Regions from separate parts of the Homo sapiens genome. Here region 1 is linked to region 2. The links come from fine-mapping of genetic effects on gene expression. A gene starts in region 2. The other region holds a variant in brackets. All regions are shown on one strand. Distances are from middle to middle. Region 1 overlaps DCP2 (decapping mRNA 2). Region 2 holds the start of DCP2 (decapping mRNA 2).

Region 1 (5,379 bases), 45 kb before region 2:
TAATAGCTCTCAAGAGTTTCGATTATCAAGCTTTAAAGTGATAACATATCAAGATGACTATTAAAAAATAAACATCTCTGAAAGTGTCCTTTCCTCCATAAGGCTTTAAACAATTTGCAAATTCTTAATTGGGAGTATGTCCCAATCATTCTATTAAACTATTTACAGCTCTACCTACTTCTAGATTCAGCAAACAGAGCTACTAGTTAGAGTATTTTGAGAGCCAAAATAGTAAGAGACTTCTGTAATGGTTGAGATTTCTGCACTGACCTTAATTAGGGTACCGCCATAGGGCTACCAAAGTTTTTAGTGAGGGCTGGGGAGGTGGAGCATAAGTAACATTTTTTTTCTGCAGAAGGTGATGGCTTTGTAGAACACTATAAAATTTTTCAGGAAAACATACAGCAAATTTTCTTATCCAGTGGGAACAGCCTATTTGACAAGGAATGATATACAAGTTTGATTCACCTTTGAGCACTCTTATAGAGTTTACAGAAGAGGCGTAACTGGTTACAAAACAAAAGTTACGCCTTCACTATCCAGTTCTTAAAGTTTATCCACATCCTACAAATCTTATGTTCATGTAGGTCAGGTTAAAGTAAGCTCCAAACTTGTGGCCTTCAGAAGCATCTCCTGTTTAACACACCTGAAATTACTCTAACTTAATACATTTGTATTCTCTAAGAAATAATGCTGACTGCTGTCACCACAGCATCACTGATCTCTCAGTGGCTGTTAAAATATAAACAAGTGGAAAAAAAGTATACAAGTTGATAGCAGCTGTTCATGTATTCTTGTTTTGCTAATACCTGTGTAGAGAAAGACAGTTTCACATGCAGATCACCATACATTTTTGCTTAAAGGTTACACTGGGTAAACTGTTTGTTTATCACATTACATCTGGGTGAGATTTTGCATGTGACCAAGAGGAAGAAATCATTCAGTCCCGGAAATAGCAACTGCTATGTAAAACCACATCCTTGACTAGTACTTCATCTTTCCACAGTCATCCATCTGCTAATCAGGTGAAATATCAGCTCAGCAGAACAAAGCAAGTTATACACAAATTTCCCCCACATTCACACTGATGCCGTACTTAGTAATTCTGGTTCTACCATTCCCTTTTGCACTTTTTGCAAGTCAAATTCATGTGGAAAAATGTTCTGTTTGTAGAACTCATAGTATTCACTTATAGTGCTCATGTCAGGAATGGCAAGTGAGTAAGAGCCCCTGATAATCTGCTTTTGTTAGAACGTAATGCAAAGATAATAAAACATGTCCACTTCTTTTCTAGTTCTAATCAGTTTTTAGACATCAAGATTTATTTACTTTGCATGAGATTTGTTTCCTATTATTTGAATATGTGCTATACACTTGAATTAGAAAAACCTGCTTGAATGTATTGTCAGTTATTAAAGCACATGTGACTAAGTTTGCATTTGTCAGTATTGTTCTACTGTTTGTACTGAAAGTCTCATTTTAAAATTGCTACTTAACACTGTACTATACCTTGTAATTTTTTAGATTCTCCACTTGTATTCTTTAAATGTTTCCAGATGCCTTTAGTTTTAGCTGCTGTAAAATAGCTACTTTGCGTTATTTGATATAGAATTGTTTTTTAAAAACTCCATTTATTTATACAGAGACATTTATAATATTTTACAAACATTCTTATATTCTGAATAAATATTTCTAATTCCACAGTGTACCTTAACTGTGTTATTTAAAGGGTAAGGCTATCCTTCTGTAGAACTGTGATATACATGCAGGCAAATATCAAATCCATGATGCTTACATGAAATCAAGAGCCCTAGTCAAAGCAGGGGTCTAGAAGTAAGACTATTATTAGATCAAAATGGCCAAAGAACCCTCATTTATAGCCCATTTTTAGTTGGCTTTTTAAAATTTGGCATAAATAGGAAGTTATCTATTGAAGAGAGTCTTTTCCCCTCTTAAAGAAAGATCATTAAAATGGAATGTAATCAAGGACTGGAAATGCAAGGAAGTCATATAGGACAACAAGATGGCAAGCAGCTTTGCAACACATCTGTTAGAGAAAGATTACAATGTTCTCAAGTTTTCACTATGGAAGCAAAGTAA[CT/T]TTGACAGTAAGTATAACACCTTAGTCACTCTCCTTTTGAGAATTTAAAATAAAAGTTACTATCATATAGCTGAGGTCTCTAATGGAAAAGAATGTATTTCTTTCCCCCTTGAGATCCAAAGTTAAGTATTCCTATTGCAAAACCTGATTCTAGCACAAACTTAAGAATTGCTGGATTTTAAATATCTAATGAATTCACATCTCAAGCCCTACACTATAATCTTGCTTTAAAGCAACAAACTTAATTGTTTGAGGTATTTTCATTTTTGCAGAGACTCTCGACAATATTTCTTCCTGGGGGTTTTTTTTTTTTTTTTTTGGTTGTTTTTTGTTTTTTCCAGACAGAGTCTTGCTCTGTTCACCCAGGCTGGAGTGCAGTGGTGTGATCTCAGCTCACTGCGACCTCTGCCTCCCGGGGTCAAGAGATTCTCCTGCCTCAGCCTCCCAAGTAGCTGGGACTACAGACACGCACCACCACGCCCAGCTAATTTTTGAATTTTTAGTTTCACCATGTTGGTCAGGCTGGTCTCGAACTCCTGACCTCGTGATCCACCCAACTCAGCCTCCCAAAGTGCTGGGATTACAGGTATGAGCACCGCGCCCAGCTTCTTCCTGTTATATAAACATACTTTTATCATGTTCATCTCATACTTGCCATTTTTATTGGTCCAAAGAGCAACCACAATGAGCAACTCAGAACCTACGATGATAAATAACAGTAGCAGAAAACCAGGCTAAGGTGGTAACTAAAACCGCCCAAGCAGCCAATTTTATTGATAGTACATTACAAACAATCTAACACAATGATGTTTTTACAGAAAGCCAGTATCTGAACAACCTTCCATCGTTCAAATTGTATTTTGTAAGATTAAAAGGCTTTTAGTTTCTAACCTATTATTTACATCAAAAAGCTTTCAAAAAGTTAGAGCATAACTGTTAAGACATAGGATTTTGTTCATTTTCTCAGTGGAGAGTACAGAGTACAGCTGACATTCTAGTGGGTCTTTGGAAGTACAGTAATCCTGCAAACATTTAAACTCCAATTCACAAACATGAATCACCGGAAATCCTTTGATAGTCATACCCAACAATACAGGTAGTCTTTATCCTTTCGTTAACACTGAGGGAAAAAAACAGTTGCTGTTCAACTACAACAACATAAATCTAGAAACAGAATGAAACCTGTTCCAAATGTTTCTGTTCTTATAACAAGGTGAACACTACAGGTGTTTTGGGGTTCCTTTTCTGCTATCAGTAAATGTTTGACAATTTCCAAAAGAGCACCAAGAACTGTATACCACCATGAACAGAATCCCTTGAAGTAGATTCACTTATAGTCTTTCTCCAAGCATTAAAATGCCCTATAAGGTAAAACAAAACATTGCTATAATCTAGGCAAAAATTAAAGGTTGAATCATTTCACATAAGATAAAAATAATTACTAAAGAAATAAAGTTCACAAATCTACTTGGTTATCACATTTACTCTAAAGTCTGGTTTTTTCATTGACCATAATATATTTAGTGAAACATTTCCTCAGTTTTTGTCTACCAGCAAAAGGTCTCAAAATAATTTGCTTAACATAACTCAGCATAAATATCTTCACCTTTTTCCGACTAAAACTTACTCCCAAACAAATTGTTTTAAGACTATGTATCCTCCATTAACATCTTTAAAGCATAATGTAAAAAGCCACATCAAGTCTTCTTTTGGAAATAGGCACAGTATTAAAAAGTCAAGTCTTACCACTTTCCCATCCAAACTAATCTGTATGCCCTATTTCGGTTAGACAAAAGGCAATCTTATTAAGAGAACTTCACTTAAAAATGCTAATGCATGAACTGTAATTCCGTTTATTTTATTCTGAAATGAGATGGTTTTAAATTTTTATTAAAGCTAACAGATAAAAGTCTGAATTGTACATGGATCTAGGATAAGTCAATAATTACCAAGGATGATTTTTTAAAAGTACTATAAGGTATTAAGCTAATAAGCAAACTTCAAAACAATTATTTTTTAAAAACAGACATAAAGCAAAATAGTTCATGGTTTTATTGTCCTTCCCTGTTTTTGTTACTGAAGAAAAAGTTTCTAATATTTGTAAAATGGAAGTCAGGTTAGCTGTCTCCTGTCCTAACTCTAAAGTGAAATATGACCAAAGAACTTTAAGACTCATTTCTTTGGACACTTGCATTTAACATTAAATGATTACTTGTGCAACATCCTAACACAAACCTAAAAGGAACCAAAGAGACAGCAGTCCCCTAGAACAGTAGTGAAATGCACAAAGAAACTCTTAGCAGTATGTCTTCTGTGCTTTTCTGTCAGTGCGTATCATATGTATAGTGCATAAAGAATACAAGTCTACTGTTATATATTCCAAAAGCACTAACCCATCTAATCAACCAACTGCTGAAGAATTATCTTTCTAAATTTCATTCACAGTTGAGAACCTTTACTTTCATTTGCTGCCATCCATAGTCTTTTCCTAAGTATCACAAAAGGATATGCCTGCCAATCTCTTAAAAAATGACAATGCAGACTTGTGCTCAAAATGAAGCTACAGATTTAGAACCTCAGATTCAATGAACTAAAAGGAGAATATATTAAATGTTAAATTTGACCTCAGAAATTCCACTATACTAAGGATGTTGCCTAAGACCTCTCAAAGACTGAGGACCAGCAGAACACTGCCCATTTCACTCTAGAACCACACACAAGTCTGTTGTTCCCAAGCCAATGTGAAAGCTATAAGCCTTGAGACTCAAAAGAGCACAGGTGTCCACAGGTGACCCAAACATCAAAAGTGAGATCACCTTCTCAGGAAGGAAAGATAAAATCACTGCTTGCAAGTCTGTGGCAGGTTTGCTATAAAGATGTGAAACAAATTTTAAAATATGGATTATTCTACAGAAGGGGTAAGACACCAGGGAGAAAAAAAGGACTCAATGGACTTTTTCCTGGCCAGTCACACCAAGAAAAAGGATTAAGAAACAACAGGTCTTCAAATGGCACTGAACGAACAGTAGCCAATAACCCAAAAACCACCCAACCACCTGCAGGAAACCTTCCACCAAAAAGCAGAAAACACATATTCAGGGCCATTGTCTTCTACTGGACTAAAAGACTGAAGTCTACTAAAGGTTAGGGTCCATGTGGGACAAGATTACAAACACAGCCAACTGATTTCTGCATTCACTCTTCAGAGTACCTTTGACCAATACTACCCAGCTAACGTAAGCACCTTGTGAAAGCTCATTCCTTTTACGTTGTGCCTT
Region 2 (5,322 bases):
TAAAATGCATAAAAAATATTGGAAACAAAAAATAAAGATCACAATCTCATAATCCCACTATTGGTTGATGTGCGTCTAGTCATTAACCCACATACACATATCAAATTCAGTTTCTTTTTCCTTTTTTTTTTTTTATTTGGGACAAGAAACTAAATGCCTTTTCAGTGGTTCATTTGAATCTACCATACTTCAAAAATTATAAATCTACCATCACCAAAGAAGTACAGCGCCATTTGTATTAGTTGCAAAATTAGGCTATTTACTTTTCTGTATGTACTTTTGTGAGGTTTAAAACGTTAGGCTTATTACTTCTCCTTGGTATGAGAGAAAAAGCACAGGCACTGGAAAGAAAAAGGAATAGGTGTGAAATCTTGATTTTGTGAATTAGGATGAATGTGACCTTATGTAAATTACAAAGTTCCTGAATCTGTTTGCGCAGATGAAAATGGAAATATACTAACTGCACCTACCAAACACGGCTGACTGAGGATTAAATAAAACAATACATGTAAAGGTAGTGCCTGGTGCACAGTAGAAACTCCAGGCCGGGCGCGATGGCTCACGCCTGTAATCCCAGCACTTTGGGAGGCCGAGGCGGGTGGATCACGAGGTCAGAAGTTCGAGACCAGCACGGCCAAGATGGTGAAATCCCGTCTCTACTAAAAATACAAAAATTAGCCGGGTGTGGTGGCGGGTGCCTGTAATCCCAGCTGCTAGGGAGGCTGAGGCAGAGACTCGTTTGAATCCGGAAGGCAGAGGTTGCAGTGAGCCAAGACCGCACCACTGCACACCAGCCTGGGCAAAAGAAAGAGGCTCCGTCTCAAAAAATAAAAACAAAAAAACAAACAAACAAAAAAAACCCCAAAAAACTCCACAAACACCAGTTCTTTACTTTCCATTAAAAAAAACTGCATGAAGGAGATACAACTACTAAAAGCCTGCCTTTTAAAACATAAACACAGTAACTGTGAACGAAAAGGTGTTATCACTTGTAATCACAATCCACACACACTTGGCGACAACTCCGGGTATCACTGCACTCCAAATTTTACCTTCGGAAAATAAGCATTTTTAAGTATCCTACACGTGTTTGGCTATCTGAAATCAGAGTTGACAAGGGGGAAGAATGCAGAAAATTTCTCATCTGAAGTATACACCCTGAGTTAAAACCCCGCGGTTGAGAATTTCCTTTAAAATAGGATTATTAAGGATAAAAAGAAAAGCAGCGCTACACTTTTTCCCTCTCTCCCCCAAAGACAAGTCCAGGGATGAGAAAAAAAAAGTAATTCCTTACAGGAATTTACAGAGAACGCCACGGACAAATAACACGCAGGCGTCAGAATAAGTCCGAAAATTTGCTCCTTGCGCAGGTCCGCGTACCTGGGATCCTAAGCCTTAAATTACTACCCTGGGGGTCTTCCTTCAGAATCGGGGAATGAGACACAGGGAGGAGGGGGTGCACGGCGTGGAAAAGTCACAGAGGCAGAAAAAACAATGGGAGAGGGAGGCGGCGGCGGCGGCAAAACGCTAAGACCCAGGCTCCGGCGAAGCGGCTACGCCTGCGGGAAAGCAAAATAGTTGAGTAACTTAAAAAATGAGGAAATTCCGGGTGTTCTGCGGGGAAGGACGGAGGGCCTTGAGAAACAGGGAGGCTGCGGCGGAAAGAGGGGCGGTGTCGTCGGAGAGCAGGGTCGACGATGGAAAGCGAGCAGCGGCGGGAGCGGAAAGCGAGGACATGGACGTGGGCGGGGAAGAAGACCCAGAGGCCTCTGGGGGTCCGCGAAACTGAGAAAACCCGACGGGGGCGAAAGGGGGTCGGGTAGCGCGGTACCTGCAGAGATCGTCCAGGACGCTGCCGGGAATCTCCACCCGTTTGGTCTCCATGATGAGGACCCACAGCAGGAACAGTGCATCCCGGCTCCGCGCGGCCGGGGACTGACGGTACGGCACTAGGACTCCGGCTCGCCGGAGAGCTGGCAGCCGAGGAAGCCGCGGCAGAGACGACTCCAACGGAGACGAGAAGGGGAAGGGGCGGGACCCGCTCACTTCCGTCCCGCTCCCTCAGCCTTGGACCCCAAGACTGGGCCAAGGCTCGGGGCGGAGCCCCCGGAGTCACGCCCCTGCTCGCTTGAAAGGCCCAATGGGAAGCTGAAGAATTGGGACTCTAAGCACTCTAAGCCAATGAGACGTTTGTTTATTGGTCTGCTACTTCCAATCCGTCTTCAAGCTGCTCAGTTGCTACTCAGAAAACCAACTTCCCGCCGCCTTTGAGGTGGCTACACGCATGCGCACCATGCCTCCTGCGCGCTTCTGGGAAGTTCAGAGGGGTCGGGGCTTAGGTGTAGACCCCGGACACATATCCGGGACTTTGGCATGTTGTGCAGGACCTCGCGGTGACTGAGCTCTTTCCTCTGCAGGGCCGACCCTGAGAATCCGTACAACACAAGAGTATGCTCGCGATTCCTGTCACCAAGTATCTTGCACTTATCGCAGCCCCCACCAACTCCAGGCCAAGAGCTGTGCCTCTTTCACTACAAACCCTTGGAGAGGGTATCCATTTTGGAGGTGGCTCTCCTCTGTGCTTCCTTAGGCACCTGGTTCCAAACATGAAGACAAGGACTTTATCTCAGTATCTGGCACCTAGCAAAATCTTAGAAAATACTGATTTAAGCTGAACTCTGATCTGTATTCCACCCTCTGCACAAAGCAATCCCCACCTGCTCGTCCTTATTCATTCCTCGTCTTGCTTAATGGAGACCAATCCATTTGGGATCTTTGGAGAAACTAGATCCATCTGTTCTTTTTCCTCTTACATCAGACCCACAGGCCCACACACACCTGCTCCGTCACAAGTTTAGTCTGTTCTACCATTTAATCTCCCATCTTTTGTCTAAATTTGTCACATGCCACTGTGTACTTCAGTTTTGCATCATTTCTCCATACTACAGTGAGAGCTGCCTAACCACTGACTCTGCCTCCATTCTTGGCCTGTGCAACTGCCTACATTTTGTTTTGTTTTACTCAGATAGGAACAAGTTATCTTTTCAGTTTCTGCTGTATGATCAAGCCCAAGTTCCTTTGGCATAAGAGGCCCGTCACCATCTATTTTGCTCCCGTTTTCCATCTTTTTTTTCCCCTCTTTCTTGGAGAATTCCTCAAATTTATCTTCCTGACAACTACAGAGTTTTTACTTATTTAGAGTTCTGTTTTGTTCTTCAAATGCCCCTTTCTTGTGGTGTCACATTCTTGCTTTGTATATTTTATTTTATCCTTCTGAGGATATTAATAATAGATTTTGACGTTTTCTTCTCCCTGAGTAGTCTTATTCCTCTCAGCTGCTTTTTGCTATTATCTTGATCTCATCTATCCTATTAGAAGCCTCTGTAGTCCTTGACTATTCACTCACACTTAAGAGTAAGGCCTTAACCTGGAGTCAAGTGCCTTGAAAGCTAATTGGAAGCTCTCACCTTGTAGATGGTACTTGTTTCCTGAGAGCTTCACTGTAGGATGATCTGGCTGAGCTGTTGGTTGGAAACACATGGTATCAGTATCTGTACGTAATTCTTTCTGCTGATGAAATTCCCTAAAGAGAAAATGCTTCCAGGCACAGCTTCATGTATTCTGGGAGTCCAGTACAGAAGCACAGGCTGCAGTATTCCATTTGCTTTATTCAGTACTCCCAGCACAGTCCAAGTCTTATTTTAGATTTCCTAAGAAGCAGGCACTGAGACAAGATTTTGAGTGCAGATAGCCTGTGAGGGAGGTGATCTTGGGAAACATTGGTAGGAGAGCAGGAAAGTGAGTCAAGGAGGGGAGGAAAGCCAAAAGGTTTATTATCAAGGAAATTAGCACTGTGGTTAACTGGAGCTTACTGTCACTGGAGAACTCTGGTGGCCAGTATAAAACATATACCTCAGAGTTATCCCACTCAAGGGGTGAGGGAGATGGGGATTTATATACCAACTTCCTTCATTGGTTGAAGGCAGCTCCTGGGGTCTGCACTCTAGCCTGCTACATGGGCAGCAAGATGGGCTCTGGTGGCCAGAAAAAGTCCTACGGCAAAGAAATGCAGATACTAGCAGTTGGACCTCCAGCCAGTGTAGTGGATGGATTGGTAAAGGTAAGAGTGAGCCCCTTCAGTTCTATTTTGCTGGGTGTGCATTCTACCTGTTCTGACTGAATGTCTTTTCTCTGACTGGGAGGCACCATAGTGGTTTTCTTAGTTGTCTCACTTAGAGCTCAAGTCTAGTTTTTAGAGTATTCTAAATGATGGCAGTGGAACAACAGTTCAAGGCAAAGTGGTGCTCACCCACATGGGCCAATGGTATATTAATAGAAACAAGCAGGTTACCAAGCACTTGCTGAAGCACCTGGAGGAATTCTTCTTACTAGCTTTCTAGTCTCCCAGTTTAGGGGCAGCTATACAACCCCTTTTGGGCTCTTAGAGGCCAGGAAGTCCCCAAACTCTCACATGGTGTTAAACCAATCTGCCTTATTAAGAGTTTCTGAGATGTCTGTGGTCCAAGATATTATCTTGCCCATGCCCCATCCCTCCACTGCCTCCTCACACACAGATTTCCAGGAGCTGGACTAGTGCAACCCTTATAGCAGCCCCCCAAGCCATGACTTCCAAAGAAGCCAACTGTATGGTAGAGGCACCTGACAGCAGTAACGTAAGCAGACCCAGGGGAATGACCCTGTGTGGCAGACAACCTGAATGAGTTTGCAGTTACAACCAAGATTCATTCCTTATCTATGAGGAACATCTGAGCCCTGTGGAATGCAGGCTGCACAGGAGGGCTAGGCCCTTTGTTTTGGGCTAAATGAAAGTTGTCAGGTGGAAGCTGTTAGGGAGAGGGTGCAAAATGAAAATGCTATATAAACTGCATGCTTTCTGCAGGTGATGTTGTTCTCATGTCCAGCTCACCTCTAGTGGACCGCTCTGTATGCAAGTTCCTCTCAATAAACCATATGCCTCATTTGCTGGCTCTGGGTCTCTTCTTCAGCCTCTTGAACCTAGTGCCATCCCTGTTAAAGTGAATAGGGACACCAAGGCCTCAATTCCATCTAATTGTTCACAGGACCCAGCTGAGAATGACAAAGGGGAGCTTAGAGTTGAGGTAACAGGAGAACAGGAGATGCTAGGGTTCTTAAATTATAATACTGATTTGATTTTTAAATAATTAGGTTGATTAAAACCTTTATAGTTTTAAAATATGCTATTTCATTTAGTCTTTTTTTTGGAACAAGATCCCACTCTGTTGCCCAGGCTGGAGTGCAGTGGCATAGCTCACTCCTGGGCTCAGTCTCCCACCTCACCCT

What was found. PIP is the estimated chance that this variant, and not a neighbour inherited with it, causes the effect. A credible set is the group of variants that fine-mapping cannot tell apart.
Region 1: its variant is the best candidate, but not a certain one, in a credible set for the expression of DCP2 in lung (TOPMed, PIP 0.75).

Annotation. Positions count from the first base shown.
Region 1 is chr5:113,018,428-113,023,806 of GRCh38, reverse strand. It overlaps DCP2 (decapping mRNA 2), which reads right to left. Exons shown (of 11, transcript NM_152624.6): 11 at 1,612-5,379. MCC (MCC regulator of Wnt signaling pathway) reads left to right here. Exons shown (of 19, transcript NM_001085377.2): 19 at 1-1,701. Among named protein-coding and RNA genes, the nearest start is that of DCP2, 44 kb to the right of the region's middle. The variant CT/T (reference allele first, on the strand shown) is at 2,101.
Region 2 is chr5:112,973,496-112,978,817 of GRCh38, reverse strand. It overlaps DCP2 (decapping mRNA 2), which reads right to left and starts at 2,020. Exons shown (of 11, transcript NM_152624.6): 1 at 1,832-2,020. The coding sequence starts at 1,884. It overlaps LOC105379126 (a long non-coding RNA gene), which reads left to right and starts at 4,033. Exons shown (of 2, transcript XR_948679.3): 1 at 4,033-4,120. RefSeq lists enhancers at 1,570-1,679, 1,790-1,839, 1,850-1,939, 2,010-2,059, 1,595-2,354 and 2 more.